Regions from separate parts of the Homo sapiens genome. Here region 1 is linked to region 2. Evidence: fine-mapped expression QTL. A gene starts in region 2. The other region holds a variant in brackets. All regions are shown on one strand. Distances are from middle to middle.

Region 1 (14,118 bases), 53 kb before region 2:
TATTCTCAGTTTGGTACTCTGGTTTTGTTATTGATTCTCATTTGTCTGGCATCTCTAGTGGAATCAGGCCATTCTTTTTATCCCTTTTCACTGTATTTTGTGTTAGTGTTTAGTGTTGTGCTGTCAAAAAGTGCTGCTTGTCATAAGAAGGAAAACCGTAGGAAAGGACACAGGCATGGGGCTCATAAGCCTCTTGTTTGAGCCAGCCTCGCAGCTCATGATTTAGCAGTTCTCATCACACCGGCCTCTACTTGGAGAAACTTTGCTGTGGGTTTCCAGTAAAACTGAATGAGGTTCTCCTTCCGTCTCGCTTTCATGTCCTGAGAGACACAAACATTCCATTTCTCGCCAGCCTCACCAGCCAGCATTCATGGTGTTGTCTAAGTTTAAATCTCCTCCTCCAGAAAAAACTCCTGCTTCTTACATATACTCTCTAACAATTCTAATCCTTACGCCCATCTCTGAAAAGCATTAACTTCACCAAGGTTGATTTGGTGAAGATCTTATTTGGAGAACATCTAACTTGAACAAAATTGCTCATTTGAGAGATGCCTTAGAAACGAAAGAGAATAAGATTTCTTAGGCCCAATGAGCAGCCTTTTTTGATTGGTAGTCAGAGGTCTCCAAATGATATTCTGATTCAAAAAGTGCTTCCCTGAAAGACTCTGGCTAAAGCTGATGAGCGATTTGGCAAACTTAAGCAGCAACAACCTAGACTCATTTTCCTAGTAAATCCTTCTGCTTATCATCCATTTGCTTCCCTAATACAGCTCTCCCTCTTCTCCCCCTTATCCTTCTGATCTCTTCCCTTCCACACATCTGTCCACACTTCTCTTCCTCTTGTCCAGATCCCTGCCCTTTCACAACAACCCTCCTATGACCCCAGGATGCCAGCTGCCTCTCTGAAGGCCTATTCCTCCATGAGCCCCATATACAGACAACTGTGGAATTTAAACCTTAGACCCAAGCTAAATTAATAACCATAATTAAGGATTTCCCCAAACCCAGGCAAGATCAGCAACTATGCATAAAATAATTAAGAATACTTTGGTCAGGCACTATGGCTCACACCTGTAATCCCATCATTTTGGAAGGTGAATCAGTGAGGACTGCCTGAGCCTACAAGTTAGACCAGCATGAGCAACATAGTGAGATCTCCATCTCTATGGAAAAAAAAACCCAGGCATGGTGGTGTGTGCCTGTAGTCCTAGCTACTCAAGAGGCTAGATGGGAGGATCACTTGCGCCCAGGAGGTTGAGGCTGCAGTGAGCCATGATTGCACCACGGGCACTCTAGCCTTGGTGGCAGAGCAAGACCCTATCGCAAAGCGGCGGGGGGAAGCATGTGACCCAGTGTTACCTAACCCATATCAACTTGTACACATTGACCAGAACCTTGCATGCTAAATCCTGAATGGCAAAAGTTGACTAGACTCCCCCAAAAGGGATCCTAGGATCCCACTGTCCACAATAAAACTGAAGAGTTAACAAAGAGGCTCAAAACATAGGGCAAAGTCTTCTAAAAGCCATATCTCAAACATTCCCCCCACCAAAAAGATTAGACCATAATCCCTTGTCATGCAAAAACAAACAAACAAACAAAAGGACCTGCAGGAGTTTTTTTTGGGATAGGCTAGAAAATACATTGTATCATTTGGGAGTCTAGAAAGTGGCCCTTTCATTGCTTGTTGTCAAGGAGCTAAATCTGAAATCGGAGACCTAATCAAAAACAGAAATGAGAATGGGAAATAGCCCCTTAACCTGAACTACAACACCTGGCAGACATTTTAAAAGTGCTTTAGAACAAAAATAAGACAGGACCTAAAATTAACTTGTGGCCCTGCTGATCAAACAGCTGGGTAGCCCCTCCCCAACCAGTCAGCTACTGACAAGGGCACTTATAGATACTGTATACAGAAAGGACACTGAGAAAAAAAGATTGTTCAACTTAGAAAACAAAAATCAAGACAAAAAGAAAAATCCCTCACTTGAGATCAATGAGGTGCACTGGGGAAAGGAAAAGCACCAATATCCTGCAATACCTTTAAACACCTGCCATGCATTAACCATACATAGAAATGGTGCGTTGGTTTTCCTAGGGTTGCTGTAACGATTTACCACAAACCGGTTGGTGTAAAACTGCAAAAACCGTAACATCACCCTTGGTTATTCAGCACTCTAACTGGGGAGTTACTGACTCATTGTTTATGCAAACAATCAGAGCAATGTTCTCATCTGTGGGAATCCTGTTGTCATAAACTTATCATTAACCCTGGCAGAAGTCATTAGCAATGCCCCTTCTTCCCTAGATGGGGCACCTATCAGTCTCAACTCATTGGCATGAGTAGTGATGGACAGTCTCATTGCTGTAGATTTCTTGTTGGTTGGTGATGGCCTCTGCCACTGCTAATACTGCATCTGGATCAGTGAAACAAGAGAAGGTAGAACAGGTCACACATCACCTTGAGGCAAAAGCTATTTGGCTTTCTAAGGTTGATCCTCATGGCCTATATGGGATTTGCTCTTGGCCTGCATTGGTCAGCTGAGGTTTGCGTTCAAAGCGTCTCACAGGGACAGTTGCTCTTGTTTCTGTCATAGTGGTCCTGATGTTGTTCCACTGCATCCCATTCTTGTCAAATGAGCACTGTGATGCTATAACAACAGAAGGATCAAGATCTCACAATACGGTTGACCAGAGAGACAACTGAATAATCTCTGAGCAGTGAAGAGCTGGATCTCTAGACTTCCTTGAGTTGGCCAACCTTTTACAAACAAGAAAATGACCGACAAGGGGGACTAAGAGACTGAACATGCAAACAGACAATGGCCAGACCACATACGGCCAGAGGATTTGAATCAGATTCTCTGCAGAACTAGCCAGGAAGCCAAACCACAGCCTCTGTAACAATTATCCCAGAATGGTTAGGACTTGGTCAGGAACTGCAAGCTTCCCTATTTTTTGCCCACTGAACTAAACAGAGAAAGCCACCTGTGTCCCCCAAACCAATCACATAAGAGGCCCTCCTCCTGGTTAGCTGCCTCCAGCTTCCCCAGGCCAACAAGCCCCAATCACAGCATCCCTGAAGGCTTCTCCTCACCCTCCCCACCTTTTATTTTTTACTATAAGGCTTTCCCACTCCTCTGCCTGCTTTTGAGTGTCTGCCAAAAGTAAGTGATCCTGGCTGACTCTCTTGCTATAGCAAGTTCAGAACCAGTGGCTCCTGTGGGTTCTCATATGGGTAGCCTTTGCTTATTTCTACAAAGTTAAAGATTAGAGGTAATTGTGTGAATATCTCTTTAAAAATAGTGTCCAACCACACTTCCTCTACTTTTTCCAGTGACTGTCTTGTGAGACACTACAGCTCTTCCATCCTTGGTGTCATTCTTATTTTTAGAAATCATTTGCTATGATCTTACTTTTCTTCCCAGACACTGAAGTCCCCCAAACCCTCAGTGTGCTCCTTTACCATGGGGTTCTGAGCAATCTAAGAGCTTCAGGCCCTGTGGCCAGAGTCTCCAGGAAAATTCTCAAGCTCTTGAAAACTCCCAGAAGAAAGGCACAAAATATGGAGCAAGGCACACGCCCTAGGGAGAGGGGAGGCTCCAAGACATGGGTGCTGCCTGGCTCCCTGCAGTCCTCTGACCAAAGTCTCTTGCCCCTGGAGACCCCTTCTTCCATGGGAGAGTATAGAAAAGGATTGATGTGCAGGTGAGACAATCGAGCAGCCAAGAAACAGGTTGCTCTTCTGTTAATACATTGAGAAAAATACACAAAAACTTGAATGTTTTAAATGAATTTCATATTTTTATTCAAGAAATTGACAGTCTGCATGGTAAATATTGTCTGTGTATGAAATATCAAACTTGTTTCCTTCTCAGAAAATGAAAAATGATTTTTTTTAGCTTTAGAATTCACTTACCTTGCTTACCAGCACATTTTTAGCTTGAACTGCTCAGTGTCATCTGAGAGGATGCAGGTCTATGATCTCTCCCAGTGTGGTAGTCACAGTGGCTGGGGTAGTTTCAGACCGCAAGCTCCCTCCATGATGACCTTCACATTTCTGCAGCCCCCACAGTGAGATGTGCCCCCATAAAGGATCCCCTGCCCGGGGTCCAGCTGAGAGATCTTGCTTGGCCAGGTCCTGTGATTTAACACCTCAGAGACATCTGCAAAAATACCTGGTCACTTGACACAGCACTCAAATTTGTAGTTGCAAAGATAAACTGTGATTTCTCCAGGGTGTTCAGAGTGTTTGCCTCCTTAACTCCTGGGAGCAGCCTGCCCTTGCAGCCCTCAGACGGCCACTACCTGGCCTCAGCAGCAGGACACAGTAGTGGCCCCACGCTGAAAAGTTCTCTACATGCAGGTTCTTATGACCTCAGCTAAGATGATCCTTCCTGAGTCCCAGCTCCCTGAAGAGGTGGGAGACTCTACACAGTTTCGGTCAAGGCTGCTGCCATGGAGAAGGGACAGGGCCACAGCAGGAGCCCTGGCAGAGAGGGTGCTTTCCCTGCAGGCGCACAAGCCTAGGACTTGCACCTGGAGCATCTTCATGTGGAAGACGTGTGGGGCCACGCACACTGCTGCATGCACCCTGAAGACCCACCTTTCTGCTTTTTCAGGGCCACAGAGGTTAGGATTCCCTAGGACTTCCTAGAACCACCCCCCAGTTGTGAGGACCACTAAACACAGGCGAACCTCAGAGATACTGTTCCAGACCACTCCGGTAAAGCAAAGAAGATTGAAGATCCCAAATAAGTGAGCCACACAAGTCTCTTGGTTTCCCAGTGCATATAAAAGTTACACTTTACACTGTACTGGAGTCTGTTAAGTGTGTGACAGAACTATGTCTAAAAAACAATGTACATACCTTGGTTTAAAGATTCTTTACTGCTTAACAGTACTGATAGAGAGACATGAAGTGAGTGTGGGCTGTTGGAAGAATGGCCCTGATAGACTTTCTCGACGACTCAGCGTTGCCACAAAACTTCAATTTGTGAAAAACGCAATAAAGCAAAGAGCAATAAAACAAGGTGTGCCAGACACTATGCGTGAACGCACCCGAGGCAGAGAGAGGCACCGCTAACTGCTCCACCTGCCTGCGGGAGAGGCTTTCTTTATATGTTAGAAATTATGCTTTCCCTTCAAAATTTCTTTTGTGTATGAAGTATTTGTTCAAGCCCTGTTCTCAGGCACATTCAACTAGATTTCTGCCCACATAAGCTGGCCTCGTGGTGGGAAGAAATCCTTCGTGAAGGTTGGCAGAAAATGTGTTTTTAGGGGAAAATAAAACAGCAAACATACACACACAAATAGTCCTAATGTAGAGTCTACATTAGGGGTGGCTTTTAGCATTAACTTTTCTTGGCGTAGATTTCTACTTTCAGAGGTAAAGGCTACAGCAAACAGCTGGCTCTGGAGATTACGTTCACTTCCAGCCCGTGGTCCAGGCTGAAGGAGGAAGCCGTGAGCAGACACAGACACCCACGGCTGGGAAGCGGGGCCTCATGGGCCTGGGGCGGGCACTGGGCGAGGCGTGCCAAGGCCTGCATGTACACCACCTGGCGAGGCGTGCAAAGGCCCACGTATACACACGTGTATGTGTGTGACACAGGCCGTTGGCATCTGACACAATGCAATCGCAGATGAGACTGATGTTGACAACAACTCCCGTTTGCCCACTGACCCATCAGCTCCACGCCCGGCATGAGAAGCTCAGAGAATTCCTCGGGGAAGACATAAACAGAAGTAGTGAGTATGTCAGGCTTCATGGTGGTTCAGGACAGCATTTTCCCTCACACTTCTAATGGCCTTCCTCAGGACTTGGCATTTTGTATTCTGTCTCCCACAGCTCTAAGGCCAACTTCAAAAGATCAGCAACAAGCAAATTGCTAGAGAACTGTGAAGACCTAAACTTGACACTGGCTGCTGCTTTGTTCTAGGGATGGACACTTTTAAGGAAGGGATTCCTTGAACAGTGGAGTTAGCTGAGTTTTTCAGTTTCTATCAATGTGCCTATTCACACGCAAATGTACCAGATAAGCCAGCGATATCTCCAGAGCCCCTAGTCCTCGACCACTATTGATGCCTCAGTGGTTATCATGATAGAATTCTTTGTGATGTTTTAAATATTGTATGGAAACTACAAAATCAGAAATCTGTTGTTTCCAACTAGAATGTTAAAAAGAAAAAAAGTTTACACATTTTATGATACATGATTTTATTTACACAACTGATTTTCTTAGTCACCTTGATTACAAAAAAAGGAACATGATCTGGTTTAATGACCTTTCATAAATAGATTTTACAAATTTTAATAACTGACAGATTACTACTTAATACTCAGTAATACTTAATACTTAGTAACTTCTGCATTTACGTGTATGAAAATTCCAGTAGAGCTAATAAGGATGGGGACTTTTATAACTCAGGAATAGACAATTAGGTTATTGGTCAAGGATAAATTGGTCAAGGATAAATTCCCCATCACTGGGTCAGCTGTTTAGACCTGGAGTTCTTACCCTCCTGAGAACAAACCTGTTGCAGCAATTCACACTTACTGTGTAGGCATTTTTAATAATTTGAGAAAGTTTATTCTTATTTCTGCATTTAGTAAGACTATCATTAAGCATATCTGAAAACCAAAAGTTTACCATGTCTATAGATATTTGTAAAAGAACTTATCACAGTGTATCTGAAAAACAGCCCAAATTAGAGCCAGGTTACGTGTCCAATAAGCATTTTTCAAACTCTCCCTCTGGGTGTGTGCGCACACACCACAAGGCTCTATTACACACGCATCCAAGCCTTGGCCTCACAAAATGCCACAATTTTGCTGTTTTTGTGAAATGCCTATATAAAATACAGTATTTGAATGAGACTATTTTAAGTCCTATCAGTGCTTTAAGTCTGAAGAGCAGGCAGTGTTTTGGTAATCCGACTCTTTTCTGCGAAGTTACAGTGCTGACAACACAGCCAGAAGAGCTGCTGAGACTTCCCAAAAGCTGCCCCCACAAGACTGGAGGAGTGTTGTGCATCTGTGACCACAAACAAGCAATGAAGAATGACAAGAAGCTTATGAGTCATGGTCAGAATCTAAGAAACAGAAACATCTTGTAGCAGCATTAAATTACAAACACAGGAAGAGCTGATCCATGGGCCTTTCACACAGGCTCTATAAGAGCCAAACACCATCTTTTTCACATCAGAATTGTAATCAGAGGTGTAGCAGTCCTTGGTCATTGTCATTGCTACTTCTAACACAGCTAGCTAGCCTGTCCCTTTATGAGTAAGTTGATAAGATTCAAATTAAAGTGAGTACAAGCCCTACCTGCTCCTAACAGGTAGGATGAGCCACTGCTTTCGCCTCTACTTGGCTGTGGGGTGTGCTGCAGGCTGGTGGCAGGTGGGATTCACAGCAGCAAAGCCTCTGCTGTCAGCAATTCTGGGACTCCAACAGCCCCCTTTCTTCATACTGTTCTCATCAGGGGTAGTGGCTGCTCAGTACCGAACACGTGAGGATGATGTGGTGGGCCCGGGGGACAAATGTGTCTTGTGAGCCCTCTTCCCTGATACCACCATCCACATAGTAAAGATGGCATGGAATCTCTCCATTGTGCTAAATCTAGGAATCATCTTAATCATGATGAAAACCAAATGTCTTCCTAAGGAAAGGTTGCATGATTTAAAAAAAATCATTCTCAAGATCTCGAATGCTGAGCCCAGGCCCATCCTCGGGGCCCCTCTTCCCCTCCAGCCCTGGAGGGGCATTGACACTACCCCCAGGCCCCCCCCGCAGTCTCTCATTCTGAATAAGGACAGGTCATCAGGGCCAGCATTTTTCCTACTGCCTTTTTTGTGTGTGTGCTTCATGTTTAAATTTTTTTGCCTTGTTTGGCGGCAACTAGAAAAATCCAACAGTTCAGGTCCAATTTCATACACCAGGTAGTAAGTGTTGGACCCACACATGTGAACACAGAATGTTGGTGGTCACTGATGGACACAGACCAACACTGGGTGCTGCTGGGCACTGAAGAGAAAGGAATGCTTAACCACTAAGACTCAGAGCTCTTACCCGGTGTGGCATGTCTGCTAGGAGGGAAAATCACCGGCTATCAGAAGTAAAACCACCTTGGAAGTTAAAACAAACTACCAAAAACGAGTCTGCCACCTGGGAACTGAACACGGCTCGGCCAATGTGACGTTCACAAAGAAAGGGCCGGTAGACTTTCCATTCTCAGCATGTTTCTTCCCCTTGTGAGTCCATTACCTTTCACAAAGAAATGTTAACTATCAAACGTGTCCATTAATTTTGCCGCTGAGGGTGAAAGCATCCAGTTAGCATATACACTATCATTTGGATATCTTGGAAACCCAGTGTTAGTGCCATCAGCTCTCGTGAGTGGTACAGGACTCTCTCCAGGCCAGTTCGGGTCTGACATGCCTAAAAATGAAAACAGATCATTTGTTCTGCACTGAAGAACCAAAACTTCAAGTGCAGACAGTAAGGCCTTGGCAAAACTCCCTTTGATGTTCAAACCAAACTCGTGGTTTCTGTGCCAATTATATTAATGGTTTTGTGTTCCAGGTTTCCAAAAACACTGTTATAGTTAGGGGAAATATCATGTGCTCTCTTGGTAAATGTAACTTAACAGACACTACCAATTTTGACTTTTATGAACTTGAGACTCTCTAATCTGATGTATATTTGTCGAACTGCTTAACTCTTTTTCTAAGGCAGTGTAGGGCAACAGCACACTGCTGCACTCAATGGCTTACTGCAGCGGAAACGTTCTATAAAACATTCTCTAACGTAAAGGAGGCACTCGTCTGTTGTCTGAGCCTACAACGGAGAAGAGGACCTTCCAAATCGAGGGTGCACACGGGCCAGCCTCATAGCATCGTCAGCACAAATGGAGTGTGGCACTAGACACAAAGCCAGTGAGGAGTCAGTGAGTCAGGAGGCATGCAAAAGGAACCGTCTCAGCTTGAAAAAAATGCTTGAAACTCCAAGATTTCAAACAATCAATGATGAAGTTAGGAAACAGAAAAAATTTCTAGTATTTAATCAAAGACAAAAGAAGGAGTTTTGGCAAGAACCATATTTACTGTCCATTGTAAGACCACAGCACCACAGACCATGTTCTTTCAAAAAGCAACTGCTCCAGCTTTAGCACTGACTTCATAAGTGACAACCGTCCTGAAGGTGGGTAAGGGAAAGGATGTGAAAACAGCAGTGGGGGTGCGTCCTCCCAGGGCCAGCCAGCTCCTGCAACCTCGCTACCCCTGATGGAGGACATGTGGCTGGGACTGGGGCTGAGGCTTGGCCAGTGGCTGCTCGCCAGTGCCGGGTGGCCTCTGAGAGGCACCTGCCTGCCCAGGAGGGGTCTGGGGGAACCTGGCTGTGCTCCCAGTGCAGGCTGAGTGGTGCTGGTGGCTCCTTTCTCAACTGAATACCTCCCCAGATTTGTATATTTATCCACTTAGTTAAAGTAGAAGTACTATGACTTGATTCCCACCCCAGAAGCGCCTTATTCAACCTGTTCTTGGTCTCCCCTGAGAGTTCCGCCCTGATCTGTTTTTTCCTCTACCATCCTAAGTTGCTGGGCAATGTGGTAATTACACTTATTTTCAC[A/T]TCCTTTTAGAAAAACATAGTTGCAATAATGCCTAAATGTAAACTGGATGCAAAGTCAGACATTTACAAATAAAAAGGTTCAGAGCAGACTTTGGTTTTGTTCAGACCAGAAACATTTTTAAAAAGCATCACAGAGAGGAAGGATAGTGCAAAGGGGACAGCGGTGCTAGAATCTAGTAAATGCATGGGAAATTCTACCATAGAGTTTGTTTTCAATCCATGTGGAAGGGAGGGCTCGAGGGAGGGGGGCATTATTACAGTCCACCAGCGGTGTCTCCTCCTCTGAGAGGCCGTCGTCATAAATCAGGGAGTCAGATGGAGTGGACGCCGCAAGGTCCAAGTAGTCCTGGAAGACAGAGATGGCCGGTCACTCCAAGCCATGTGCCACAACTAGATACAACTCAGTATACAACAAGCCATCCTCAGGGCAGAGGCTCTGGCTGTGTCTCCACCTCGCACCAATCTCCTGACCTCTCCAAGAGACCAGGGCCAGGCTGCATAGAGCTCCCAGGACTCCTGGCTGGCCTGGTCCTGCTCTGAGGTCCCCATCACTCCCCTGGGTGTTGTCTATTCTGTCTCTTCCCCTGGAAAGTCACCTCCCTGGGGAAAGAAATGTGCTCCCTCAGCGTCTTATCTCCAGGGCCTGGAGGGCAGCCTTGGGGGACGCCTCATCTAGCTGCCCCTGGCCCAACCCGGAGATGGGCAGCACGGAACCAGCCCGCTGACAAACCCTTGGGCTCTGGGGGAGCCCACTGCAGCCACATGCCAGGACGCAGCCCCAGCCTGCAGGATGTTTTCCAGCTTTCCCCAAGGACCCCTGCCATCTAGAACGTCACGTCAGGGCTGAGTTCTGAAATCTGACAGCGCTGTCAGGGTGCACAGGACCCTGCTACAGGCACGGGCTCCCCAGCACGAGGGGCCACTGGCGTCTGCTCCTTTCAATGCCCAGCTTGAATGTGCACAGAGGGGCCCAGCGTTTTCCCGGCTGTTTCTCAGCACTGTTCTAGGAAGGCCAGCACCAGTGATCGCTTCTGTTTTGAACAACGCTGCATTCTCAGGACTTGAAGTTTTCATCCAAGCGAGACAGTGATGTGAAGTTTTCCTATGGGGTCCTAGGTCCTGCATCCCGCTATCCAAGTCGGAAGAAGTGACAACTCAGTAAATGTGCCAATGTTAAGACAAGGCCTGTGTGTAAACCCCGTGAGGGCAGGGCTGTGCTGGTCTTGTTTATCTGCATTCCCAGCCTCTGAGACATAGTATGGGTCCTAGCAGCTGCCTGATGAATATTGGTTGAAAATGTGTAGACCTCACAAACTGTACTTCCAGGCACACAGGCTGACTCTGGCCACCCCCCGATATGCTTTGTTTGGCCTGCGTTCGGCTCTGGGAAATTTAAATGAATTGTTAACAATAAAAACTGGGAGACAACATAAACCTCATAAAATTCAGAAGACCCAGCCCATTCCTGGCTCCTTTTTCTGCAGGCCACAGGTACTCCAGCAAGGAACCCTTTGGAGGGGGCTGGCTGTTTGCCACAGTCTCCACTGCTCCTTACTCACTGCCCTCCTCCAGCCGGACCCCCCTCTGGGCATCTGAATTTTGGGCACTTGCTTTAACTCAACTTTCTCATTTTCCATTATGGAAAACTATTTCTTTTTGGCTTTGGAATATTTTCCTCCCATGCCTGTCTGTAGAGAGCTTTTCCTAAATGTCAAGAATCTTGGTTTCTTCATGACTTGAAAAGAAGCCCAAGCGGCCTGGCCTGAGAAGGGTTCAATCTGCTGTCTGCATGCAGGGGAGAGCATGACTCTCTCTCTCTGCACAATCCCACTGTGGCCCCACACTGGGAACTCTGAGGGCTAAAACTACTGCCCTGGGGTGAGGCTGGAGTCTCCCCAAGCCACTTTCAGCTTGTGGGAATTGGACCCAGGCACTCACTCTCCTCTTAACCATCATCTTCTCCAGGTCTTTGCTGATGTCCGCAAACACCGGCCTTTTGTCCGGCTCCTGCTTCCAGCATTGCAGCATCAGGCGGTACCTGGTGGGAAGAGCAGACAGGCCAATATGATCCAAGCAGGGCCAGGTCTCAGAAGGACAGCCCACCACAGCCATCGCACCCTGCCCTGTACCCTGGGCCCAGTGTGCTCTGTCTCCAACTCCAAAGCTATTTCTGCATCGCTGACATCTCTGAGCCTCGTGGGACTGGGGCATGGCCTGTTGCAGGATCCCAGCCCGTGGGCCACTGTGCTCAGGTCTCTCAGAGCTGTGGTCCAGAATCCTACAAGCTTCCCTTCCCTCCAAGGGAGATTCATTTTTACTTCCCTTGCAAAGACACTGGTAAACAGCTCACTGGATACTATGCTTGCTCTGGCAGCTAAGTGAGAAGTGCCAGTCCTTAAAACTCTCAAGAAGAATGAATTGATTGAGGGCTTTTAGGTGTGGAGACAGACAAACAAGAACCTTTGGCAATCACACGTCTGTCCTGCACCGTCCTTGCTTGCCTGGGTGCCCAGGCAGACCACAGCGCTCCAGCTGGCCACCAGCTGGGGGCCCAGGGAGGTGGTACCTGGCTTCTCGGCCCAGCATGCCCCCTCCACGCCCCAGCAGTGTGCACACTCTGTGGAATGCATGTACCATGCATCTCTGCCTCTGGGCAGCCCTTTCTCATCTGTTCTCAGCCTGGTTTCTAAGACCATCTCCCCTGAGAGTGTAAAGGTTTCAACCTCTCAGGTTGCAGCCCAGGCTGCCCCTGCCTGGCTCTGCACCTCCACTCAGGCACCCCTTAACACGTGCCCCCTGGGCCATCTGGAATTACCTTCTCCTCCCTAAGTGTCCTGCTGGGACAGCTCTCAGCCCTTGAGCTTGCATTGCACCAGTCTCTGCTCTCACTCATTTTTATAAGACCCCCTAGGAAGCCCACCAGCCCTCAGTGGGGTAGGACCCCCAGCATCTACTGCCACACCCAAGGATGGCTCTCTAACCTCTGCCCTGCCCACTCCCCACCCCCCACTTCTCCTGGTTTCTCCTGGGGCTGCTCTGGATGGGGAGGGAATGCACACAGATGTCCCCTCCCTTCCCAAGTGAGGCTGGGCCAAAGCCAGTCCCCGCTCACATCTCCTCGCTGCAGTTGTCTGGCCTCTCCATCCGGTGGCCGGTCTTCAGAAGGTTGAAGAGCCGCTCAGGAGGAATCCCAGGATAGGGGTTTCCCCCTAGGGTCACGATCTCCCACAGCAGGACACCAAAAGACCATCTGCAGAGAGTGAAAGGACCAGTGAGTGGCTCCACCTGGCCCTCACAGAGCCCTCCGGGGGGCCCAGATATCCACCCCCACCACCAAGCACCTGCTGACCCTGTCGGCTTCAAGCACAGATGCTCACAGATGTCAGCCTGGGTCTGGCTGCTCAGATGGATGTAGCATGAAGGTGGGGAAGGGCTGCCTGCCTGCCTGGCCCCTACTCCATGAAGCTGAAGTCCTTGCCCAAGCCACTCCCATCAGAGCAGCCACACGCACAAGGGACACATGAGGCTTAAGATGAATTCATGATTAATGAATTAATGATACATTAATTAATATCATGAATTAATCTTAATAATTCTTAAGATTCTCACACTTAAAGCGGTGAGAATGCAGGCCACCAGACTCAGAGTGCCTTGTATAGTTCTTTTGCCATTTCTATGTGCTTGGAAAATTTCATAAAATCTTAGAAGGAAAAAAAGCTATAGAAAAACATTTTAACTGTGAAGGAAAACTCGCTTTGCAATGGGAACAAAATCATATCACAAAACAGCATCGCATGAGCCCATTTAGGGCAATAAAAAGCATACATGTGCACACCACGGAGCACACCAGAGGGCAGCCAGAGGTCACTGGGCGGTGTGGTCCAATGACATTCAGTCTCTTCTTTATGCTTTTCTCTGCCTTTTCCAACTAGCCTACAGTCAGCTTATATAATCGGAAAGCTGTTGTCCAATTGCTTATTCACAGCCCACAGTATTTAAGATGCACATGTTGGCCAGGCGTGGTGGCTCTCGCCTGTAATCCCAGCACTTTGGGAGGCTGAGGTGGGTGGATCATTTGAGGTCAGGATTCAAGACCAGTGTGACCAACATGGTGAAACCCTGTCCCTACCAAAAAATACAAAAAAATGAGCCAGGCGAAGTAGCACGTGCCTGTAATCCCAGCTACTCAGGAGGCTGAGGCACAGGAATCGCTTGAACCCAGGAGGTGGAGGTTGCAGTGAGCCAGGATTGCGCCACTGCACTCCAACCTGGGTGACAGAGTGAGACCCTATCCCCTCCCCCCACAAAAAAAGAGAGGCACATCACACCTCTGCTGACTGTAGAACACTTTAGAGGCAAGAATCCTGTGTTTTAAAAGTGATCAGCTCTTGTCATTGGACCTGGAAGAATGAGATTTTGGCTTCCACCTTTGAGCAGTTTGGGGCACACCAATCTATAAACTCACACAAGGCCATCTTCAGGTG
Region 2 (14,685 bases):
GTAACACAATTCAACCACTGTGGAAAACAGTTTGGCGGCTCCACAAAATATAAAACAGAATTACCTAGCGATTTCATGTCCAGGTATGTACCCAAAAGAACTGAAAGCACGAACTCAGGTATTTATAACAGGAATGTCCCTGGCAGCATTTTTCATAACTGCCAAAAGGTGGAAAGCACCCACGTGTCCATCCCCAGATGAATGGGTGACGGCACACTATTTACCCCTCACAGGAAGGGGCTGATGTGTGCCACAGCCTAGAGGAACCCTGAAGACCTTATGCTGAGTGAAGCCAGACAACAGTCCATGCAGATGAAATGTTCCAGGACAGGCCAAGCCGCAGAGACAGAACGCAGGCTGGGGGTTGCCCGGGGACAGGAAGCAGCTGTTTAATGGGTATGGGGTTTCCTTTTGGGGTGATGCAAATTTTTTGGAACTAAGGCAATGCCTGTTCAATGCTGTAAATGTGCTAAATGCCACCAAATGGTTCACTTATAAATGGTTAAACTTATGTTACACAAATTTCACAATTAAAAAAGAGTAAACCATAATTATTTGCTACCCTGTTTCCCCCTCTGTCCCCCTCAGCTGCTGGGCCCGCCAGGAGCCCCTGCTATGTGGACCAGGACAAGGGATGGAGAGCTGGTAGGCAGAAGTGTGTGCAGGTACACCCCTGCGTGCCCCCATCCCCGCGTCCTCTGTACTTGAAGCCTCCTGGGGTGAGAACGACCATGTGACAGGATCCCACGGAACACAGGGAAAGTGACGGTGGCCCCCTCCCAGGCCTCAAAGCTCCTTAAGCCTCAGGCTTCTTGAAGCTCTGTGCCCTCCTGTGCACATAGCCAGGCACAAGGGCTGGGAGGTGTGGCCACCCAGTGGGTAAGGGCCATGCCAGGCTATGCCACAAGAAGGACATAGTAGATGGCGTTAAGCCCCTGAGACTGGGGGGCATTCCTGTCACCAAGTACAGTCTCACATGCCCCTGCATATACAGGTGGTGGGGAGGCTAGGGGAGCAAAGACAATTTGAGGCTTTCCCGGGTCACGAGTTTTCAAGGTGCTGTGGGGCATCCTGTATGTGACCTGCCAGAGGAGTCTCCTGCAGAGACAACCTGTGGGCTGCCCACCGGTGCTGGGTCCCATAGCCAGGCTGGCCCCTTACGATGGCAGAGCAATGTGCCCATGTCACCAAGCGCCCATGAGCCCCGTTGTTTCCCTGGGTGAGGAGGGCCAGGCCCAGAGCCCCACTTGGGCTAAGTGTTAGGCTTCCTGGGGCTGGCAGACGCCCTACAGGCAATGGTGGTGGAGCAGGAAGGGGAACAGAGCAAGAGGAAGCCCCTGGCCCCTAGCCCAGCAACAGCTGCCGGGTCTGTGCCAGTTGCACTGCCAAGTAGTATGAGGAAGAAACCCAATGAGCCCTCTCCCTCCCTCCAGAACTGCACCAGCTCATGCTGCACCTCCAGCTCACCCACCCTCGTCCCGGCACCCAGAGCACACATCTCCCCAGTCATTACTTAAATTCTAGGAAATACATGTTTCCTTTTTCCCTCTCAGGAACACAAGGGCGAGAATCCTCTGGAGTCACAGGCACACAAGGGAACTGGAAACAGCTTGGTGGCCACTGTCCTGCTCCTGCCCTGGGGCCACACTGCCCCTCAGGTGCTTCCTTGGAACCCTGGCTCCTGCAGGGCATGGAGAGCAGCAGCACAGAGGAGCAAGGGCCAGGAGTGGAAGCGCAGCTGCAGCACCCGAATCTGGGAGGGGGTCTAGAACCTGGGGCTGTAGGGCCACAGGTTCTCCCCTGAGCACAGAGCCCCAGCACCAGGCCCTCCAGGTATCCCTGATATCAGGGAGGAAAGCCTATGCCCGCTGGTCCACCAGGTAGGCGCACACCTGTCCAGGTGCAGCGGTGACCTTTCTGTGGTGGTGCCTGGGCTGCTACACTTTGTGGAGCCACTCCTTGAGGCAAAAGCAAACAGAGGTGTTTGCTTGGAGCTGGCCACCTGCTCCCTCCAGGGCCAGGTGCGACCTGAACTGCTGTCCTTAAGGTCCTGCTGGCACCATCTCCCTGCCCCAGGCTTTTCAGGGGCCAAGAGCCCAGCCAGGAGGAGCTGTGGGAACAAGGACAGCTTGCTGCCTGCTCTTGCCCAGCCCTGCCCTGCCTGCAGTCTCAGGGTGGACAGTTCAGGGACCCACAGGCTTCATGGCCTCTAGGCTTGGGGAATGGAGGGGAGCGGGGTCCCTGAGGCCCCCATGATCACACAGCTGCGGGACCAGAGCTCCATGGAGGTTCAGGCCTCATTGTCTCAGCGCCAATCCAAGTGCCCAGGCCTGGCCCCAGAGCTCAGAGAAGGGGGGAGAAAGCAGAGAGGTAAAGCAGGACCTCAGGGGCTGCCAAGTGTCCCAGAGCCTTGGTCAGGAGAAGGCCCGTCCTCCAAAGTTCTCCTATGAGAGGTACAGCCTGCCTCAGGGGACAAAGAATCAAGCACCAAGGCTTCGCCTCAATCCCTGAGCCGGCCCTGGCTGCTGTTCTAGTGGGGGAGCCAGAGGGGCTCTGGTGGGCCTGGGGCCTTCTCCCCTTCCAGCCCCAAGGGGTGCAGTGCCTGGGTCATGGACCCCAAGGGACCTCCCCATTTGACCTCATAGTCCCACTGACTGGCAGCCTCCCAGGGGCCATGGGGTGCTCCCCTACCCCATGGGGCACAGAAGACGGCTCTGGCAGGCCCAGGTGCAGACGGGCACGGAGAGACAGCCCTGGTGCCATCATCACCTTCTCTGTGACCATGACTGAGGTGTGCTCCCTGCCTGGTGGTCACTGCCCAGTCCCCGCCCCTTGCCACACACGCATGCGGAAGTCCCTACACAGGGTCTCCTTGACTACGGTCTCTCCCTGCCATGAGACAGCTCTGGAGAGTCCCCAGCCCTAGAGCAGCAGGGCAGGAGCCGAGGCTCCCTCAGGAGTGCTCCCAGCCTGCTGTTGTTACTATTATTGTTACTGTTATTGTTACTATTAAGTCACTCTGCTGAAAAATAATTGCAGAGGAGTGGGGAGATAGAGGGCACAGCAGAGAACGGGGAGGGAGCATAACCTGGCACCAGGAAGCAGCCTCCAAAGAAGGAAGGGGGGATGGGGGGGGCCCACTTCTGGGGGAGGGGCTCCTGAAGTGGAAAGGAAGTGCCTCTGCAGGAGGGGAGGAGGGCAGCAGGGAGCATGGGGGGCTGCACCCTGCTTTGCCCCTATTCCCTGGCTTTCTTCTCCCAGGCTGTCCTGGAGGATGGGAAAAATGAGGAGGAAGGCCCTGTCCTGCATGAGGAAACACAGCTGTACCCCCATCCCTGATGCCCAAACCCCATCCCTGCACCCTTGTCTTCAGAGCAGTAGCTTCCATCCGATGCCAGGGCCTCAGGCATATGTTGGCTGCAAGGGCCACAGCCTGGTGTCCCAGCCGAACATCTGCACCGCCACTGGCAGCAAGATGCCTTCCTGCCATCCACAGAGCACACACAGTCGGCCCTTCTGCTGGCACAGCCATGCCTGGTGCTCCTCCCCAGACCCATAGGACTCCCAGACATCAACTAAAGCTGACGAGACCCAGAGAGTATCTCAGCGTCTGTGCATGGTGCCACACATTACTCTGGGATCTGGGCTGGGATGTCCTGAGGGCACCTGGAGCCCGAGGTGGGGGGACTCACCAGTGGGTGGGCAGGCTCAGGGCAACCTCCCTGGAAGCCCTCCTTAGCCCCACCCTGGACCCACACCACTGGCCCAGAGAACGGGCTGGAGCAAGCCAGAGGGCCAGGGCTGGGGAGCTCCCGCATCCTCTCTACCGGTTCGAGTCCATAGGCTATGAGAACCTGTTTCCTCACCTGTGAAATGGGCCAAGACCATGACCCTTGCAGACTTGTTGGAAAAGATGAAGTGAGTAGGCACAGCACAGGGGCAGTGCACTGTGAGCCCCCATGGGGTGCTACTGCTGGTATTAGCCTTATCCAGTTAAGACGAGGGGACCTAGAGGGTCTTCGGCCAGGCTGCAGAGGGGGAAGGTCTCAGGGGAGATGGCAGCTTCCGGGCCTTCCCTTCCCCTTGGCACCCCAGGTTCCATTTTAACAGATATCATAATTTTTAATTGGTTTTCTCCTCCACTGGCTAAAAGGCTATTAGCTCCCCGCTAGGTGATCGCATCCCATTTTCTTCACACCACCAAGGAAACAGTGATTTCCTCAGCCTGTCCCTAAAGTGATTCTGCAGAAGAAAGGCAATTTAGTGAATCAGCTCAATGCACTTCCCCATTTGCTCTCTGCTTGCAGGCCCCCAGCAGGCACAGCCCACCAGTGAGGGCTGCAGGCAGCTTCTGGAGGCCAGACAGGGTTAGTGAGCTGGAGTGGAGGAGGAAGCAAGCCAGGCCCAGGTGAACCTGGTGAAGCCTCTGGCCAGAGAAAGGGGAGAAGGAAAAGGATGAAGCAGGGGGAGCTGTACCCCTGGCCTGAGCTGCCCGCGCTGATACCTGGTGCTTCAGGCAGGGGTGGGCTGCCTAGGCCCTCTGCAGAGGGTGGTCTGGCAGCTTGGATCCGGGCCCTGCCAAGTCACAGTGCCCAGCTCTTCCATGCTGGGAACAGAAGGCCCCGGGGCCCAGGGGCAGAGAGGGAATGTCCTTCCTTGCTGCAAAACAGGACCCAAGAAGTCAGGCCAGGAAGACAAGAGACAAGAGGCTTGCTGAGGAGCTGTGGGAGGTTGAGGTGCAGGGTCAGCCTGGGACCTGGGGGGAACCCCAGAAGCTGAGACTCAGTTTCCTCATCCAAGCAACGGGGACAGCTGTATCTGTGTTGAGCAATGAAATGCCAGAAACCTTTAAGAGCAACTTTTAAATGAATGTAACTTTTAGATGGAGGTTCTCTCACTCTGGTTCCAGCATACCTGGGGCTGACAGGCTATGCCCTGCAGGTATGAGGAGTGTGTGTCCCTATATACACACGTGGCGTCCCTGTGTGTATGAGTGATGAGAGGGGCTGGGGTCCCTGTGTGGACGTGGGTGAGGCAGGGTGTGAAGGAACCACGCTGTGCATGTCCACAGCCTTGGCAGCAAGTGCTGTGAGAAGGGGCAGGAGTGTGTCTTGGTGATCCAGTGTGAGTGTGCATGTGTGAGCTGTGGAAGAACCCTCATCCTCTAGAGACCCAGTCTGTGCCTGTCATCAGGCCCAGCCACTAAAGTGCAGCGTCCGCAAGAGGGCGCTTGAGGCCGAGCTGTCCCCTTGGGGTGGTTGGGGAGCACCGAGGGGCTCACTGGGGCGGTCCTTGGCAGCTCCAAGAGTGCGGCTCGAACCTCCGGAGCTGTGGCTCCTGGGAAAGAGCTCTGCAGCCTCTTCAAAGGCCCCAGCTGTCTACTCCAGGGAGTGGGGCTGCCTCTTCACTCCCAGTGCCTCCAACTGTGGTGTCCGGGTTATCCCAGGGGCTAGGGGCTCACCATCTCTGGATTCGGGAAGCTGTCTGTGGGCCAGGGGTCTGGGCACGGAAAGCTACCTGCATGCCTGCTGAGTGCCACAAGCCGGCCCCCAGAGCCTGGCCCCCACAGCCTCACTGGCCACCCCAACTGAACGCAAGGCTGTGGAAGGGTGTGGGGAAGTCCTCTGCCCAGCACACCAGCAGCAGTTCACACCTGGCCCCCTGCCCACAACCTCAAAGCCAAAGCCACAGCCCAGAATCCCAAGACAGCGTCAGAGCGCCTTGTTTGCTTCTGCCCCGTGTCTTCCCCCTGCAGCACTGGGACCCCAAAGTCCTAACACTCAGAAAAGATAGAAAGGCAAGGGCTTCTCCCCTGTCCCTCGCTAGGTGGACTGGGGACCCGCTCTGGCCTCAGCATATGCTGAGCTGAGGCGCAGGTCACACAAATGAAGTCTCAGGCAGGCCTGGAAACTCAGTTTGTGCAGGGCCTGGGGCCAGAGACAGGGTGACTGACCATGGCTTCTTCTGTTCCCAAAGGCTGTGGGGAGAGAAAGCCCTTTGTAAGGAGTGAGGGAGGATGGCCAGGGCTCCTTCCCTCTTAGAGGGAAACTTGGTTCATACACAAGCGCTTGGAGGGGATCAAGTCAGGGCCAGTTTGAGGGACACTTAAACGCGTGCCAAGGGGTCAAAGATTCCACAGCCTTGCGGCTCACTCTGCCAGAGTTTGGGTGGGGTCGATGACCATCTTTGCAAGGCCACACCTAATGCTGGGATCCTAAGGCACCTGAGGTTTCACCAGGCCCAGCACCAACGCTGGCTGGCGGCGCAAACCCCTGCCCCACCCCAAGCCCTGGGCCTCCTATGGCCGCATCTTCAGCATCTCTGCCAGGCAGCGCCACACGACTCCAGGGCTGCCGGGTGGGACGCCTATCACGGCGGCCCCTCGGGGGGAGCCACCCCAGAAACCACGGTTTTTAGGTGTTTAAAGACAGGGCGGCAAAAACGCACGAGGGAAAAGCAATCTTTTCAAAAGAGCCTCCGAATCCCTCGGCTGGCCAGGACGGCAGAGCTGGGGGAGGAACGCACGGACGCTGAGCGGGAAAAGGAAACCAGGACGGAGCCGTCTCCTGCCGAAACAGAACTCTCCGCACGAATCGCGGGCTTTCGGGGCTCCCTGACCCGTCCGCCAGGTCGGCCCCGAAACGGCTGTCCCGTTTGCTCCAGGACGCGGCTTTGGCGCAGGGCGCGGCCAGATTGAGACCTGCGGCTATGGCTAGGGTTCTGAGCACCGACCCCCGCGGCCCGGCCCGCGCTCCGCTCCCGCCCGAGACCCGCCCAGCCCCGGCCCGAGGCGCCCGGCCCGAGGCGTCCTGCCCTTCGCCCGCCGCCCGCCGCAGCCACTGCGCTCCCAGCCGAGGCCGGGTGGCCGGCGACCGCACAGCCCGCTGCCCACGGCAAACAGAAAGGCGCTTCTGAACGCGCCCGCTCCGCTGCTCGGCGCCAACTTCGCCCTGGCCCCTGCGGGAGCCGGCGGCCGGCAGAACTCACCTTTGCCTAGCAGCGGCAGCAGCAGCAGCAACAGCAGACGCAGCCCCGCGGCACCGGACGTCGCCTTCGCCATCGCCCGTGCGCGCTGGGGCCACGGCTGGAGGGACTGCGGCTAGGGCCGGCGGGTCTGGATGGCGGGTGCGGCGCTCAGTCTGGCCGCCCCATCCCCGCCCGGGGCGCGGCGGACGCGACGGACACTGGGGGCGCGACGCACGTTCCGGGGCACTCAGCGCTGCTGCGCGCCCTGCTTCGGTCGCGGGACTGAAGCGAGGTAAGCGCCGGCTGCGCCGGAGGAGCGGGTAGGGGCGGGGCGGGGCGGGGGCGGTCCAGGGGTGGGCCAGGCGGGGCCGGAGGCGGGTGGGGTGCGGGAAGGGGCGGGGCTCCAGTGCTTGCTCTGGCTGCGCGGGGTGCGGCCGGGGCGCGGCGCGTGTAGGAGCTCAGTGCGGGACGCGCGGCTTGGGCCGGGTGGGGCTTGGGGAGGAGCGGGGTGCGGGAGCGGGGTGCGGCCGAAAAGGGCCCGGCAGGAGCCGGGTGCGGACCCCGAGGTGCGCGGCGGGGATGGAACCCAGGAGCCCGGGTCCGCGCACCTACGCAGAGCCGCTCTTCCTACCCGGTGCGCGCCCGCTTGCAGTCCCTGCCTTTTGCCCTTTCCGCTGCACAGAGAGGGCAGGGATGCTACGCGGGATGCAGGTCTGGCCGACTGGCTCGGGGTGCGACCCCGCGGACTCAGAGAAGGGCGCCCCGCCTCCAGGCTCTCCGCGGAGCGCTTGCTGCGCCATTTCTCAGAGGCGAGAGGCGCAGTGGGAGCGCGGCCTCTGCTGGGGCCGGAGGCAGGAGGCGGGGAAGAGCTGAGCAGGGGAAGAGAGGCAGAATAGCCTTTTTCAGCATCCTGGGGTAGTAGAGAGGGTAGGGTCCTGGAAGGGCAGTTTGTGATTCCCCCCTCCAGCACTGGTCCAACCCTTGGAAACCGGAAACTGGCTCCGGCGTCCTTTCAGAGACCTGGTGCTGGTGGCCCTTGCATCCCTTACACAGGAGAACTCTCAGGAGATGGGCTGGCAGAGTCGGAGAGCGAGTAGCGAGGAGGAGGAAAGAATCCAATTTTCCCCCAAAGAAATGATGGAAATGATGCGCATAAACACATTTACCCCTAATAGGGAGCAGCAACTGGACCTGAGAAGGGGTTCTGGGTGAGGTTGGATGTGGGCTCAGTGGGGAAGTCCTCTGTTCTCGCCCCATCCCCGGCTGCTTTTTGAGGTCTGGCCTGCACTTAGGCGCAGAGGGATGGAAGAAGGGAAGCCCATGGGCCCTTGAGGAGGAAAAGCCAGGGAACCTGGGCCCAGGGCACCCTTGAGCCAGCCGCTCCCTTGCTTGCTGTGTGCAGAACCCCGCCCTCTTGCCTGGCTGAGCTCAGGGCTGAATAAGTGATCTGCACATCACTGCAGATATGAAGTCAAAGTGAAGTCACCCTCACAGGCAGGAGGGGGAGCTGCCAAGACAGAGGCTGGCTTGCACTCAGCCAACCGTGATGTCCAGACCTGGCTTGCTGAGGGGCAGGTGGCCGGGGCACAGGCCTGCCAGCCCAGGAGAGACACTGTGGGCCACTGGACTCCGGCTGCCTGCCACACCCTTCCAGTTTATGGAGCTAGAGTTGGCCACAAGGGGCTCCCTTGGGTTCAGACAGGTTCCATCTCTGGTGCCAGTGGCTACCTAGGCTACACACTCAGGCCTGTGCCCAGGGAAGGGACCTGATAGGTAGGGAGGGGCTGGGGGCATCTTTTGGCTACAGACAAGCTCCTGTGATTGCCTCCTAGGTGAATGAAGAGAGAAGTGGGTAGGCTTAAATAGCCCCACCCCTGCACCTCCCGGGGACCACCCTGGCCAGCCCTTGGCTGACATTGATGTCTGGCTGGGCTCTGTGTGGCCATCTTAAGGGGCCATCTGGGGCTGTGCTCCTGCCTAGCCTACCTTAGGCCTTTCCACGCTCTCGCTCCACCCTCACCCTTGGGGGTCCTGAGTGAACACCTGACACTATGAGAGGGTGTCATTTACTCCTTGGAAAAAGGTCTGGGGGGCCCTCACATGGGTGTACCCTGTACACATGCATACATGCATACACCTGTGTTCCCATACGTGGACACACACGCACACAGATGCATACCTCCCTGCTACGTGCACGCCCAGGGATCTGACCAAAGGGTCGCTCAGCAGAGGACAGTTGTGAGGCCCAGAGCCTGCTGGCCTCAGGGACTGCGGGGAAAGGAGATTCAGCCCTGCCTGGGTGTAGGCTCAGTATCCAGAACATCAGGCAGCAGGAAGGAGCTCCTTGCCCAGCAGAGGGGAAGCGAGGCCACCCCCTGAGGTCTCACAAGGGGAGGTGGGGGCCAGGTGAAGTGCAAAGCAGACGTGCCGGTCTTTGGCTGCCCAGGAGTCCTGGCCCTGGCTTCTCTCAGTCCATGGGGTGGGGAGGGCCTGCAGGGGGCTCTGCCTCTCTTTCTTGACTCCCCTTAGTCATCTCTCTGAGCCTCAGTTTCCCCAGCTATAAACATCTCCCTTTCAGAAGAAGGGGTGAAACTAGAAAGAGGGGTGCATGTGAGGGTAGAGCCCAGTGCCCGACAAACAGGAAGCCCTTAATAAGTTGTAGCCATTGGGCCTTCCTGGGCCTGGGCTCGGGCACCCTGGCCACACTGCCCTGCTGAGGGTCGCGGGCTCTCTGGGAGCTGGAGGAGGGCACATCACAGTGTGGTCAGTGCTTCCTGTCCCTGCCCGCAGGTCCCCTTGGAGAATCTTCAGGGCAGCTTTTATGAAGACACACATCCTGGGTCCCCCACTCCCTAAAAATCCATGTTAAAAAAAAAGTTCAGGGGCCAGGCTAAGGGCTCACACCTGTAATCCCAGTACTTTGGGAGGCCAAGGCAAGAAGATCACTTGAGGCCAGGAGTTCGAGACCAGCCTGGGCAGCACAGTGAGACGCTATCTCTAAGAAAAAAAAAAAAATTCCCCAAGAGGTTCTGGTGCAGGCATCTGCTTGGAGTGATTAGACCTGAGTTTGAATTTTGCCATTCATAGTTGTGTGACATTGCATACATTACTCCTCAGCTTCAGTTTTGTCATCTCTCAAATGGGGACTGAAACAGTGTCCTTCCCTGGTGACTGTGAGGAGATGGTATTTTCAAGGCTCTGCCCCAGTGCAGGGTAAGATGCTCAGTGGGCAGGCGGCTCACACCATCTTCCTGTAGCATGTGAGAACTTGGAGGTCATTCATTGCTTCTGAGCAGGTGAAGATTACCTGGAGCACCTCAGGTCTGACCCCAAAGCACCAAAACGCAGCACAGGGAAGGGAGGGAGGAGGGAAACCCATCATGGACAGAGATCTGGGCCATGCCTGTGCAGGTTTGCCTGGCGGGAGGCGGGCGGGATGCTCTGTGTCCTCTGACCCAGGTGACATGGGGGTCTCTGCCTGCACTGAGAAGCATGGTTGGAGTGAGGCTGAGTGCAGTGACAGGAAACTCTGGCTCTGGGGGTGCCTCGTGACTTGCAGGTAGGGGGAAACACATTCAAGAGCGCAGCTCGGTCCTGGTGATACTGGAAGGCTGGGTGGCATTCCTGGAACTGCTGACCGAGGCCTCTCAGAGTGGGCGTGGGCAGGGGTCCAGGTCCCTCCCATGGGCAGTGTGACATGGTGGTTGGAAGCACAGACTCTGAGGCTGGCTGTGTGCACTGTTAGCAAAGTGGTCGGTGCCTCAGTTTCCCATCTGTCTGCCACTGCCCTCTGCTCCCCCATCGGGCTATTGAGGTGAGGGGCAGGTCTACTGCTCCCCACGGTTTGCCTCCCTGGCCTTGCTGTTGGTGCCCTCCAGGGCAGCTGCGAGGAGGAAGCCAGTGACCACCAGCTAGCTCTCAGGGCACTCAGAGGGGCTGCTCAGCCAGCCCACCCTATGCCAAATATGCTGCTTCCATGAGCATGCTCACAGAACACCTGGCCTGGGCCTGCAGGGTGTGGCTGTGCAGGACAGGCTTTACCTAACTGTGCAGGTCCTGCCTGCCTGTGGGCCTCAGGTGCCCTCAGGGGTGTTTGCAGAAGAGCCCTCAACCTGGCCTGGGAGAAGACCCCTTTTGCATCCTCCCTGGGGCCTGATTAGGAGCCGGGTGCCCGAACAAAAGCAACAGGGGCCTACATATCCATCAGAGACCCTGGGGGGTTCAGAGAAAGCCCACCTCCTCCCACCAGCCTGCCCACCTACTCCCACTAACCTATCATTATCACTTTGCCCACTTCAGTTTTCCATGTCCCCACACTTTGTTCTCTTGTGAATTTCCTTCCCTCGCCCTCCTTTCTTCTTTCCCCTCTGCCCGTCTTCTCCTCCCCTTCCCTTGGAGGAATCTCCATCCTTTTCGCTCAGCACCAGAGCCAGGCTAGCCACACCACTCAGCAGCTTCTGTGGTCCTCTCTGGGCCTCGGTGTCATCCTCTGTGACATGAGAGCAATAACATGGGCACTGCCTTGAGGGTAAAGCCCAATGATGCATCAGTGGGCTCAGCAGACAGTGGCAGTGTTTCCTGCCCCTCTGCCAGGGTTTTCTCTCCTACAGGGGGCTGTCTAGGTGTGGCCTGGGGCAGTAGCATGGTGGGAAGGCTGCAGGGGGCTCTGAGTGTGTCTGCGCTCTGTCTCTTGTCCCCATGTCCTTGGCGGGTTACCCAGAGTCTCCGTGCCTCAGTGGGAAGGCAGAGCTCCTTCTCCCCAAGTTCCCCGGGGATGCAGACAGTCAGTCTGCACAGAGTCCTTAGCCCAGGGACGCTGGCCATCAGCACGAGCTGCCGCTGTCATCAGCCTCTGTCCTGTCAGCTGTAGGAGCTGAGGCCATGAGGCCCAAGCAGTCACTGGATGGTGCTAGGGTGGCATAGAAAGCCAGGGGGCCCTGGACCCAAACAGTCCGGGCTTCCCACCTGCACAGGTGACAGCACGCACCTGTGTGCTGTGTGGGGCTGGTGGTCAACGAGACTGGCTTGCTAGAGCACACACCTGTCTTCTGCATCCTGGCTTGGCCACAGGCTTTGAGCCCTCCCCATGCAACCAGAAGCCTTCTCAGTGCTGGAGGGACCTGGGTCCCCAGAGTCCTATTTGCCGCAGAGGACCACTTATCTGACCTTGAATTACACATTCGGGAGTGGTGGGTTGATTAATGTCTGCGGCCACCCAGGCTCCTGGGGGATTGGCTCACATAAGGCAGCCCCAGCCCGAGGGGCTCAGAGGCCGGCTGGTCTGTGGACAGGACCTCAGGCCTGCCGGTGCCTTGCTTGGTGCATCCTCTGGAGAAGGCATCCTGGCTCCAAGCAACGTGGAGAGTGGAAGCTCGAGTCAGCTGTCCAGCAGATACAGGCTGAATGCTTTTTAGACAAAACATCTCCCAAGGCAGTTTCATAATCTGCCTTGTAATGCAGATTTAGACAACTTTTTACGAATGCGCTTTTTAAAATAGGCCTTAATGGATCTTTGCAGTAGTTACAGTCCATTGTGTAAATGCAAGCAGAAGGCTTTTTGAAAACATGTATTATTGATCAGAAAGGCAGCAGCAATTAGAAGCCAGTGTGTCGTATTGTTCAATACACACTTCCTATACAGCCCTGCCGTGCCCACTCATAACTTTCTGACAAATTATCTCGTCACTAGGAAGCCCTTTCTTTTCCTTTTTGCTTCTGTGAGTGAAAGAGCGCCCCCCGATTCGTTATTAGCTGGAGGTAAGGTCAATGAAAAATTAAGCTCACCATTGCCATTGCAAAACCTATTTACAACTTCTCCTTGGGCTTCTCAACTACAACCAGGTCTGAGCTGGAGGGGCTACAGAAGGGCCACAGAGGAGCCACTTCGAAGGAGGAACCCTGGCATCCAAGGCCACCATGAGCTGCCATTCAGCGGGGTTCCAGGGAGGAAGTGTGCCCCCGCCTGCTCCCAGTGTTCTCAGCATTTCTCCTCTTCAGTCGCCAAACCCAAAATGACCACTGAGGATTTGTTTTTTGCTCCAACACTGGTAGGAGAATCTCTCTTTCCCCCAGTCTGCACAATTGCCCTTCGTCCTTCTTGAAAAGCCCACTTATTTATTTGACAGATATCTCCTGGGCCCTTGCTATATTCCAGGCACCATTTTTGGAAACAGAGACGTTGCAGTGGAGAAAACCAAGTCCCTCCATTCCCCGTACATCTAGGGGACAGTCTCCCAAACTCAAGGCATGTGTGCAGGGGTCCAAGGCAGAAGAGATGTAGGTGATGGTTGTCAGGCCTGGGCGGCCCCGGGAGCTGACCTTGGGCAAAGAAGATGGTGCTGGGGGACAGTGCTGCCCTGGAGACACCGGGAGGTGGTGGGAGGCCAGCCAACCTTGGCTTCCCCGCAGTGCCCCAGCAGGAACAGGCAGGCATTCACCCTTCCCGGAGAGCATCCTCTCAGCAGCCTCTGGCTGGCCTCCCTGGAAGTTGCAGTGCGCCCTCCGTCCTCTGAGAGGTGTCCTGCCCGCAGGACCTTCAGAGGCTCACTTTGGCCCAGGAGGTCTTTTGGAGCCAAAAAACCCTGTGGTGCTTTGGGATGCTGACAAACAGGAAGCCAGTGACTGAATGCCCCAGTGGTGTCTGCAGGCTGCCATGGGCCCAGGATGGAGGTGGCTGTGGCTCTGGCAAGGTGTGTATCTGCCAGGGCCCTCCAGGCCTGTGGGTGCACAGGGGAGCCTGCCTTGCTCCACACTCGGGAGCTGCTGTGAGCTGCAGGGACAGGAGGGAACTGTAAGCTGCCTGCCGGCCACCTTCCTTTCCTCCCTCCTGCTTGCCCTTGGGTGTGGGGTGCAGGGTGCAGGTCGTGCGTGGTTTCCAGCCCCTGTGTCTACAGAGGGTCCAGGCACTTGGTACTTGCTCAGGTACTGCACTGGGCCCAGGCACTTGGTACCCCTTCCGGCTCTCCCGCAGGCCTTTGTTGCTTTGGAAGCCCTGGGGCTGGTTGCAGGCAGAGCCCTCAGGACTTCCCCTCCAGCCCCTGCACTACCCTGTGCTGCTACCTGAGCTGAGGCCTGCCCAGGGCTTCCCGCCATGCCTGGACCCCTCATACAAACCAGAGAGGCCCCTCCCTGCTTGCTCTGTCTGTCCAGGGGAAGGTTCTGCGACGATGACCATGTTGAACTTTGTGCTGCCTGAGCACTTAAAATGTGGCTAGTGTGACTGAGGAACTGAATGTTTAATTTTATTGAATTTAAGATAATGTAAAATTAAATATTCACATGTGGCCAGGATACTTATTGAGCAATGCAGCTCTAAAAAACATCTCCGTAGCCTCTCCTTGGGGGTGCCTGGGGAAGATGGGCTCCTGCCACCCACCTCCCTGCTGGAAGGAGAGCAGAGAAGCAGCCGGTTGAATTGTTCCAGGGAACTCTGCTCTTGCAGCATTCCCTCTGGGCCCTGGCTTCCAGGCAGCTTGAAAATGCACAGCCCTGAGGAGACGGGCGGCACTGCAGGGGTACACCCTGGGCACCCCCTATCTGGAGAGTCTTCTGCTTCCCTCCAGGCCCAGCCCCAGGACTTCCTTCCTACAGCAGGCATGGCTAGGAGCACAGACACAGCTCAGCCTTGGCAGAGCCCTGCCCTCAGGGGCCTCTTTGGAAAGGGGCTGATGAGCTACTGCGTATTAAGAGGCTGATGAAGAGCTGTCAGGGGACTCTGTA

Evidence for each region. PIP is the estimated chance that this variant, and not a neighbour inherited with it, causes the effect.
Region 1: its variant is fine-mapped to the expression of RET in whole blood (TOPMed, PIP above 0.99).

The regions. Positions count from the first base shown.
Region 1 is chr10:43,122,437-43,136,554 of GRCh38, reverse strand. RET (ret proto-oncogene) reads right to left here. Exons shown (of 20, transcript NM_020975.6): 17 at 12,747-12,884; 18 at 11,573-11,672; 19 at 9,833-9,980; 20 at 6,204-8,443. The coding sequence ends at 8,286. Among named protein-coding and RNA genes, the nearest start is that of CSGALNACT2-DT, 8.9 kb to the left of the region's middle. RefSeq lists a silencer at 1,816-1,885 and enhancers at 5,020-5,620, 5,621-6,221. The variant A/T (reference allele first, on the strand shown) is at 9,635.
Region 2 is chr10:43,069,634-43,084,318 of GRCh38, reverse strand. RET (ret proto-oncogene) reads right to left here and starts at 7,250. Exons shown (of 20, transcript NM_020975.6): 1 at 6,988-7,250. The coding sequence starts at 7,060. RefSeq lists enhancers at 5,905-6,895, 7,204-8,061, 7,927-8,193, 10,276-10,437, 10,648-10,939 and 1 more and promoters at 7,028-7,326, 7,028-7,711.